Linked DNA regions of Homo sapiens: region 1 is linked to region 2. A link means that fine-mapping ties the variant in region 2 to the expression of a gene that starts in the linked region. Tissue or cell type: whole blood. Region 2 holds a variant in brackets; the other region holds the start of a gene. All regions are shown on one strand. Distances are from middle to middle.

Region 1 (5,128 bases), 100 kb before region 2:
ACGACATGAGGGCAAGATAGCACTCAACCTCATCAGTTTGTTATAGTAAGTGAACTAATATAGAAGACAGCACTTTGTATCCTGTAAAGTACTTTACAAAAATTTCATTAGTATTACAAATACTTACCTCAGTCAATCTGCTTAAGTCAGAATGATCCTTGGCCAGTTCTACTGCATCAATGATTGAGGTTCTGATATTTTTATTAATCCTTTCCACTTCACTGAAAGCTAGAGGCTGAGGAGGCAATGCATTCCAGGATGTCTTGTCCAGATGTGGTGAGGCATTTAAAAGAAGCCCATAGATGATTTGCCTGATGGGCTGAGATATTCTGTGGGCATTTGGTTGCTGCATGTTTTCCACCTGTGTGGGAAGAATGGTCCGTCTTAGGACCAAAGCATCACTGATGAAAGGAGATAGCTGGCCTTTAGCTAAAGCCACTAATACCCATTCTGGTAAACCAAGATTCAAGGCATCTGGACAGACATAAGTACCACACTGGAAGAAGTCCTGTAGCTTCACCTGGGACTGTTGGTATTCTTCCATGGAACAGCAGAGAAGTTCCTTAACATTTTCTCGATCCTTTTTTGGGAGGTATTTCAGAACATTATCTAGTGCTTCGGTAGGGTTGGCAAAATGAGACAACCAATTCAGAAGTCCCAGGATTCGGTGGTGTCTCCTCCCTTTAGAACTGGTAGCTCCAAGAGGAAGACGCGCTTTACTTAAGAATGTCTCCATGATGGGTAGATTAACATGGTCATTTCCACATAGCACCGCAAAGAGAGGTAGTAGAGCTTTATTCATATTGCTGAAGTGATGGCAGAATGCATCAAGGGAAAAGCATTTGGCAGGGATATAGTTTTGTGTGCCCTTAATAGTGTTCATATTTCTCCACTGAAAGCTATTCAATGGGCAAAACCCAGTTTTCAGGTCAAAAATGCAAAAGTCACTATCTGATGATAACACAGGGCAATTCCAATGGTTAGCAAGTGTCATAATGTCCCGATCTGCTTCTGAAAAGCACTGGACAAAACACACCCGCAGCTTGATCAAAACCTGTATGAATACTTCCCGGATGAGTAAGGGACATACGTACCCACTCCCACCAACAGAAAGGGAATGGGCCATCTGGATCTTCTCTCTAGCTCTATCCTTTAAAGTTGTAAGCTTTTTATCTGAAATGTCACATCCTCCATCTAATACAACATATGGGCATATATTACAAGCAAACAGTGATTCAAAGAATTTTTGTACAACATCTGCAAAAGAATCATAGTCCCCTCCATACCGGAGATCCAAGTTTGAACTGAAGCAAAGACGGTGGAAAAGAGCATAACCATCAATGACAATTTTTGTGTCCCGCAACTTCAAATCAGTGAAGAACTCATTACTATGATCTTCCACAAAACTCATTAGTCCTCGGATACCCATGATGACAGTCTAAAGAATTAATCGCCTGTTTAAAACAACAGAAAACATTTTCAATTGATGCTAGTTATGGGGCACCAAGTCATTGCTTCCAGCACCATTAAATCAATAGCAAATGTTATGAAGTGCTCTTTAGATAGAACATAGATATCAACATCATAAATTCTTACCTAGATCCTCAAGCAATGTTAGCTGTGCTTTTTCATTCTCCTTTGCTTTCTGATACAAGGCACAAATTCAATGGTTTCATGGGTTGTAATCTTTGGATGGTGACAGAGGCTGCTGCTAATTCTAAAGAAAAATCAGTTGAAGTCCATTACTGACACACCAGTATAGAAGTTCTGTGAACTTTGATTCTTAAGTGGTAATAGTCAACATCTTACAGCACAGAGTATTTGTTTTGTGGGGTCAAAGTAAAAAGTCCTAAGCTAAAAAAAAGATATCATATTCATCTCATAATCACAAAGCATTTGGGCTTCAGTAAAGTAAGGTGTGTAGGACCTATGATAAGGATCAAGTTTTTCTTTTGTATTGACAATCAGTCACGGAACTTCTTTCAGGCTTTGGATTTGTGGGCCCTTCTTAATTGGCATAGTTTTTGGTATAAGGAAAACTGCTTCATGCCTCTAGGAACCCCTCTATCCAGTTACACCCCTAACCACGAGCTCTTTTCATCATCTTATTTTGCATATCTGGCCCAGCTACGCTTCCTCACCTGGCTAACTTAACTCGCAGGATCAGAATTGATGGTTTTTCTTTTGACACCTCGGGCTTCAATATGGCACAGCACGGTACTGTTACTATTACTTAAAATCGTGACATTTTGTCAGTCATGGATTTTTTTTGCTATAATTTTGATTTTTAGAGATTGCATTAAAACTTACCTTGATTACTGAATTTTATTGGCATCCATTTACATTTTACACTTATCTCACCCTAGTTCCAGCCCTGTCAGTATCTCAGAACCTTATCCTGTATAGTACTTATTTCTTTGCAAGATAGTTTTGTAAAGCGTCCATAAGCAGAGACTGTGTCAAGGCGTCCTACGCAAATTACAGGACCTTGCACAGACAGTTGCATAGAGCTGCATAGGGGAAAGGCGGGCAAAAGGTCTGACCTAAGTCTTCAAACACAGGCCTTCATACACCGTGCCACCTCGGCCCTCACAACCCGCCGCCCGGACCTGCAGCAGAGCCCACCTACTCTGTCCTCCCAGAGGAGTAGCTCCTCCATCAGAAGCCCGCTAGAGCCCAGCGAGGACTGGCTCCTGCACGTGAGAGTCCAATCTCAAGAGCGGGAATCGGAAGTCTCCCGGTGTGACGTCTCTGGGAAGTACAGTTCCGTGATGCCGGTGGCGCCAGACTGAGCCAAGGAGCAGGTGTTCTCGGGCCCAGAGGCGCTAAGTAGCTAAAGAGGGCTGGGACGTACGTTCCGAAATGGCTGCTGTCAGGCTAGGAAAGCTTGGCCCGCCGGTCCTCCTCTGCTTTCTCCGCCTACTTGGGTCGGCGAACACTTCCGCCTTGGTGCCGCCTCGCCCCGACTTCCCAGTATGCCCCGCGCCGTCTCCCTGGCCACGGTTCCAAACAGCCGTGGCCCGCGGTGTCTGGCGCTCGGTGGGTGTGGTTGCCCCTAGTTTGAGGCCTGCCCGATTACCCGCAAGACTTGGGCAGCCCCGGGCGCCGCTCCGACCACGACAGGGAAAGGTAAAGCGAACTGTCCTCCTTGGGGCTAGCCAGGCTCCCCTGCGAGGGGGAAGGTAATGGTTTCAAGCTGCCCGGGCTGGGTTCCGAATCTCTAGGACGCCATGGCTGCGATCTCCTCGCTTTCCTGGACATCTTACCTCCGGATGTACTCCAGTCTCAGTGCCCCTCAATAAACGTTAACCTGCTTTGCCAAAATGTAAATGTTTAAAAAGGTGAAGAAGCAAGGAATTGTTCGTTTTACCTTAAGGTTAAGATTTACTTTAAAGGTAGATTTGTGCTGTAGCAGAAACTGGTGACAAATTGCCTTCCTCTTATTACCTGGGAAGATAACTACTGGTTTTCAACTTGTGATAAATACTCCTTCCGTTGTCTTTTGCCCCCAGCCAGATCTGTTTCACCGAGAACGGGTAGTTTGCACAAGGTAGTAACTTTCTCCAAGTTCCCATCTAGCTTTCTTAACTAACCTTTTTTCTCTCCTTTGGGCGGCAGTTGATCTGCTGGACACTTACTTGCCTTAACAAGGTTTGTTAAACACCTAGTATATGCCAGGAGGTATGCCAGGGATTGGGGATGCAGAAATAAAGAAGATGTGTTCGCAGTGCCCAAGTTCACTCAAACCTCGAGGGGGAGCGTGTTGTCAAGTGAACAGATAGTTCTAGAATCTAGACAATGCGACACATTCTTGGGTAGGTTTATGGTTGCGCAGAGGAGACTAATGGAATGGATGACCTAAAAGTGGACTGGGATGGGGGTGGCAGGGCTGAGTCTGTGAGGGTGGGCGGGAGGGAACCTAGTCCCAGAGTCTTCTGCAGCCTGGACCAGACTACTTAAGCACTGCTGGGTTTAGACTGTCCTTTAAAATAAGAGCCGCTAGAAGTGAACTTCTCATTCTGTCCGTCCCTAATTCTGTCCTTCTCTAAAAGGAACCTTAATCTCATCTTTAAAATAAGGAGAATTACTGAGTGACCTGAAGGACCCTTTTCAGCTGGAAAGTCTGTAAGTCCATATATTTATTTGAACAGCTTAGTATGGCCAGACGGCATCACTTTTATGACAGTGAAGGGGAAGTAAAAACAAAAGGTATATTTAGAGGCCTGCTCTGTAGTTGTTTTTCCAGCAGATTTTACTAACGTGTCTTTGGAAGGGAAAAGAAAAAGCTGGTAACTAATCTCACTGGTATTAGGTACAACTTAACTGATTCATACATTTTAAGAAGGAAAATGTTGTAAATGGGCATTTACTTATGTTCTGTTTTGAGGATTTTTGTGGTTAATTGCCCTAGTAGTTTTTGTGGTTGACGGACACCACCACGTAAAGCCCATTGACCATCCTTAAAAACTAGGTTTTTGTCTCATAGCTTTGGAATTGTTGAATATGAAAACCTAACTTCAAGGTGTAGGCAGTTTTCAATTTAAAATGTTATTTCTATATAGATTTAAAACAAAAGCACACTTTTCTTGATAACTAACAAAACATTTAACATTCTGATGAAATAAAAGTGATTTTACTTTGTACCTACTCATATGAAACAGTCCTGCCTTTCTTTTTTTTGTTTTTGTTTTTGTTTTTGTTTTTGTTGAGATGGAGTCTTACTCTGTCGCCCAGGCTGGAGTGCAGTGGCGAGATCTCACTGCAAGCTCCGCCTCCTGGGTTCACGCTATTCTCCTGCCTCAGCCTCCCGAGTAGCTGGGACTGCAGGCGCCCGCTACAATGCCCGGCTAATTTTTTTGTATTAGACGGGGTTTCACCGTGTTAGCCAGGATGGTCTCGATCTCCTGACCTCGTGATCCGCCCGCCTTGGCCTCCCAAAGTGCTGGTACTACAGGCGTGAGCCACTGCGCCCGGCCTAAACAGTCCTGCCTTTCATAACTGCCACGTCTCATAGCTCCCTGAGGAATTACAGATTTATCTGTAGCATTTATATTCCACTGACATTAAATGGGATTTTAGGTTTGAATTGAATTTGTAACTCTTCCTGTTTTTAATCCAGAGAGATTAT
Region 2 (5,210 bases):
AAGCTCTGATTAAAAATTTAAAATAAACTTTATTTTTTAAAGCAGTTTTAGGTTCACAGCAAAATTGAGTGGAAGGTACAGAGATTTCCCTTATACCCCCTGCTCCCACACATGCATTGCCTCCCCTGTTATCAGCATTGCTACCAGTCATACATTTGTTATAACAGATGAACCTACATTGACAGATCATTATCATCAAAGTCTATAGTTTACATTAGGGTTCATTCTTAGTGCTATACATTCTTTGAGTTTGGGCACATGTATGACATGTACCCATCATTTTAGTATCATAAAGTTGTTGCATGGCCCTAAAAATTCTCTGTGCTCTCCTTACTCATTCTTCCCTCCCTCTTAAACCCTGGCAACCACTTATCTTTTTGTTGTCTCCATAGTTTAACATTTTCCAGATTGTCATATAGCTGGAATCATATATAGATTTCTCAGGCTGACTTCTTTCACTTAGTAGTATGCATTTAAGTTTCTTCCATGTCTTTTCATGCCTTAATAGCTCATATCTTCTTAGCACTAAATAATATTCTATTGTGTGAATGTACCATGGTTTATTTAACCATTCCGCTACTGAAGGACACTTTTGTTGCTTTCAAGTTTTGGCAATTATGAATAAAGCTGCTATAAACACCATTGTGCAGGTTTTTGTGTGGACATAGTTTTTAATTCATTTGAATAAATACCAAGGAACATGATTGCTGGATTATGTGATAAGCATTTGTATCATTTTGTAAGAAACTGCCAAACTGTCTTCCAAAGTGGCTGAACCATTTTGTATTCCCACTAGCAGCGAATGAGAGTTTCTGTTACTCCACATCCTTGTGAGCATTTGGTGTTGTCAGTGTCTCGATTTGGGCCGTTCTAATAGGTGTGTAGTGGTACTTCATTGTTGTTTTAATTTTCATTTCTCTGATGACATATGATGTAAAACATCTTTTCAGGTTTATTTGCCTTTTGTATATCATCTTTGGTTAGGTGTCTGTTAAGGTCTTTGGCCCATTTTAAAACCAGATTATTTTCTTATTGTTGAGTTTTAATAGTTCTTTGTATATTTTGGATAACAGTCTTTTTTTTTTTTTTTTTTTGAGACTGAGTCTCGCTCTGTCACGCAGGCGTGTCAGAGTCGCAATCTTGGCTCACTGCAAGCTCCACCTCCCAGGTTCATGCCATTCTCCCGCCTCAGCCTCCCAAGTAGCTGGGACTACAGGTGCCCACCACCAGGCCTGGCTAATTTTATTTTTGTATTTTTAGTAGAGATGGGGTTTCACCACGTTAGCCAGGATGGTCTCGATCTCCTGACCTTGTGATCTGCCTGCCTCAGCCTCCCAAAGTGCTGGGATTACAGGCTTGAGCCACTGCACCCGGCCAACAGTCTATCAGATACGTCTTTTGCAAATATTTTCTCCCAGTCTGTGGCTTATCTTTTTATTCCTTGACAGTGTTTTCTTACAGAGCAGAAATTTTTTATTTTAATAAAGTCTAGCTTCTCAATTCTTTCATGGATTGTGACTTTGGTGTTATATTTAAAAAGTTATCACCAAACTTAAAATCATCTAGATTTTATCACATATTATTTTCTAGCAGTTTTATAGTTTTATATTTTTTAGGCCTATGATTTATTTTTGAGTTAATTTTTGCAAAGGCTGTAAGGTCTGTGTCTAGATTCATCTATTGTATATGAATGCCCAGTTGTTCCAGCACCATTTGTTGAAACGACTGTGTTCCATTGCATTGCCTTTGCTTCTTTGTCAAAGATCAGTTGACTGTATTCACGCAGTTTTATTTCTGGGCTCTCTATTCTGTTTTATTGATTTTTTTTCTCTCCAATACTGTACTGTCTTAATTACTGTACTTTATAGAAAGTCTTGACATCAGGTAGTATCAGTCCTCCAACATTGTTGTTCTCCTTCAAAAGACCCAATATTATGGATCTTTTGCCTTTCCATACAAATTTTAGAATCTGTTTATCAATGTCTACAAAATAACTTCCTGGGATTTTGATTGGGGTTACATTGCATCTATTGATCAATTTGGAAAGAATCCATATCTTGACAATATTGAGTCTACCTATCCATGAACATGGATTATTTTTCCATTTATTTAGTTCTTCTTTGATTTTTTTTCATTACAGTTGTGTAGCTTTCCTCATATAGATCTTGTACATATTTTATTAGATTTATACCTAAGTGTTTCATTTCAGGGGTACTAATGTAAATATAGTTTGATATAAATGTCAAATTCTACTTGTTCATTGCTGGTATATAGGAAAGCAATTGATTTTTGTGTATCAACCTTGTATTCTGCAACATTGCAGAATTAATTACTTGTTAATTCCAGGAGGTTTTTTTAATTGATTCTTTTGGATTTTCTACTTAGCTGATCATGTCATCTGTAAACAGAGAGTTTGTTTTTTCCTTTCCCATCTCTATTCCTTTTACACTTCCTTTTCTTGTTTTACTTAATT[A/T]GGTAGGACTTTCAGTATAATGTTGAAAATAAATGATTAGAGGGGACATTTTTCCCTTGTTCCTGATATCAGCAGAAAAACGTCAGGGTTCTCATTGTAAAGTGTGATGTTAGCTGTAGGTTTGTTATAAATATTCCTGTTTCTAGTTTATCAGAGTTATTGTCATGAATGGGTATTGGATTTTGTCAATTGCTTTTTCTGCATCTATTGATTTTTTCATGTGATTTTTCTTCTTTATTCTGTTGATGTGATGGATACATTAATTGACTTTCAAGTGTTAAAGCAGCCTTGCATACCTAGTATAAATCCCACTTGGTTGTGGTGTATAATTCTCCTGACACAATGTTGGATATATATATGTATATTTTTTGGACAACATCTCGCTCTGTCACCCAGGCTGGAGTGCAGTGGGGTGATCTCAGCTCACTGCTACCTCTGTCTCCCGGGTTCAAGCGATTCTCCTGCCACAGCCTCACAAGTAGCTGGGATTACAGGCCCCTGCCACCATGCCCAGCTAACTTTTGTATTTTTAGTAGAGATGGAGTTTCACCGTGTTGGCCAGGCTGGTGTCGAACTCCTGACCCCAGGTGATCCACCCACCTCGGCTTCCCAAAGTGCTTGGACCACAGGAATGAGCTGCCACGCCTGGCCTACAATGTTGGATTTGATTTGCTAATATTTCAGTGAGGATTTTTTCATCTACATTCATCAGAGATACTGGTTTTTAGTTTTCTTTTCTTGTAATGTCTTTGTTTGGTTTTAATGTTAGGATGATGCTGACATCTTAAAATGAGTTAGGGAGTATTTCCTCTGCTTTTATTTTCTGAAAGAGATTATAGATATTTGGTGCAATTTCTTCCTTAAATATTTGGTAGAATTCGCCAGTGAACCCATCTGGGCCCAGTGTTTTTTATTTGGAAACTTACTAATTATTGATTGAATGTATTTACTGAAGATGGGCCTATTTGATTGTCTACTTCTTGTATGATTTTTGGCAGCTTGTGTCTTTGAAGGAATTGGTTCTTTTAATCTAGGTTATCAAATTTGTGGTTATAGATTGTTAATAGTATTGCTTTTTTATTCTTTTAATGTCCACGGAATCTGTAGTGACGCCCTCTCTTTCATTTTTGATTTTAATAGTTTTTGTCTTCTATCTTTTTATTTTACTTAGGCTGGCTAGAGGCTAGTTGATTTTATTGATCTTTTCAAAGAACCAGTTTTATTTTTGTTGATATTCTCTATTGGTTTCTTGTTTTCAATTTTATTATTTCTGCTGTAATATTTCTCCTTACTTTTGGTTTAATTTGCTTTTCTTTTCTAGTTTTCTATGGTGGAAGCTTAGATAACTGATTTTAGATCTTTCTTTTTTTCTAATATATATATTCAGTGCTGTAAATTTCCCTCTAAGCACTGCTTTTGCTATATCACACAAATTTTGATAAAGTGTGTTTTCATTTTCATTTAGTTCAAAATATTTTAAAATTTCTCTTGAGATTTCTTCTTCATTGTTTAGAAGTGTGTGGTTTTATATTCACATATTTTGGGATTTTCCAGTTATCTTTCTGTTATTAATTTCTAGTTTGATTCCATTTTGATGTGAGAGCAGAAATGGTATGATTTCTCTTCTTTCAAATTTGTTAATGTTTTATGGCCTAGAATGACTTTCAGTTTCTTTTTGAATAATTCGCAGGGATTTTTTTTCATTTTTATGTGAGCTCAACTGTGCATATATGAAGATATTTGTATACTTTATTCGGCATTTTAGTTTTTTTATGCAAAGATTTTCAAGTTTTCTAGTTCTTTATAATTCCATAAAATAAAGGTCTTAACTGACATAATTTACATTACTGACTTATAGTCAGATTTAATAAATGTTACCTATTCTTAAATATCATCAACAACGTTATTATTTTCACAAGTATATAAAACTTGGACATTTGGGTAATAATAGATTACAAACTGGTCTATCAATTGAGGATATGGTTACTGGATATAGTACTATGTAGATTATGCTACAAAAACATAATAAAATATAGCCTATTGAAATAGTTGAAAGCATATCACCGTTCTCCAAACTACATGTTCCCCAACCTTTAAAATCTTTATTTTAAAACTTTTGTTTCCTCAGGGAAACTGGAAAGTATTGTGGCTTTGTAGCTTTTAAACATTGAAAGATATATCTATGGGAGTATATATTTATGTGTAAATCATGTGCAACAACATATATTATTTACATGGGGATTTAAAAATGTTATATTCTGCATGAAGTTGTATATCTTTTTTGCCTTTTGTAGGAGGATACTTCATCGAGACTTAAAGTCAAAGAATGTATTTCTGAAAAATAATCTCCTTAAAATTGGTAAGATTTTAAAAAGTATGAATTCCAAAAACGCAGAACAGTATATTCTAGATATTATCATATCAAATTGAAGTAAATGGTACGTGGAAGTATTAGAGTAATCATTGGTTTGTTTAAATTTCTCAAATTTTTAAGTACATGTGCTGCTGAAATGAACACTAAATTTCTCAGGTTTCTAGATGGGCCCAACAAAACCTAATTGTTTTGTTTCTGAGTATCTGATATAAATTGAGGTGTACAAATTTACCACATATTTGATAGATTTTTCAAATATACTTTGAGTTCCCTGTTTCATGCCAGGCACTTTACAAGTTATTAGAATCATTTTACTGGTTTGATTAGTTACTACAGGTTTCTCATTTATATTATTTCATCACA

The links. PIP is the estimated chance that this variant, and not a neighbour inherited with it, causes the effect.
Region 1: NEK11 starts here. The variant in region 2 is fine-mapped to the expression of NEK11 in whole blood (INTERVAL, PIP 0.91).

Annotation. Positions count from the first base shown.
Region 1 is chr3:131,023,878-131,029,005 of GRCh38, forward strand. NEK11 (NIMA related kinase 11) reads left to right here and starts at 3,000. Exons shown (of 18, transcript NM_024800.5): 1 at 3,000-3,129; 2 at 4,053-4,125. It overlaps ASTE1 (asteroid structure-specific endonuclease 1), which reads right to left and starts at 2,948. Exons shown (of 6, transcript NM_014065.4): 1 at 2,630-2,948; 2 at 1,597-1,717; 3 at 128-1,454. The coding sequence starts at 1,429. RefSeq lists enhancers at 2,600-2,839, 2,980-3,039, 3,120-3,309.
Region 2 is chr3:131,127,978-131,133,187 of GRCh38, forward strand. It overlaps NEK11 (NIMA related kinase 11), which reads left to right. Exons shown (of 18, transcript NM_024800.5): 6 at 4,768-4,832. Among named protein-coding and RNA genes, the nearest start is that of NEK11, 100 kb to the left of the region's middle. The variant A/T (reference allele first, on the strand shown) is at 2,474.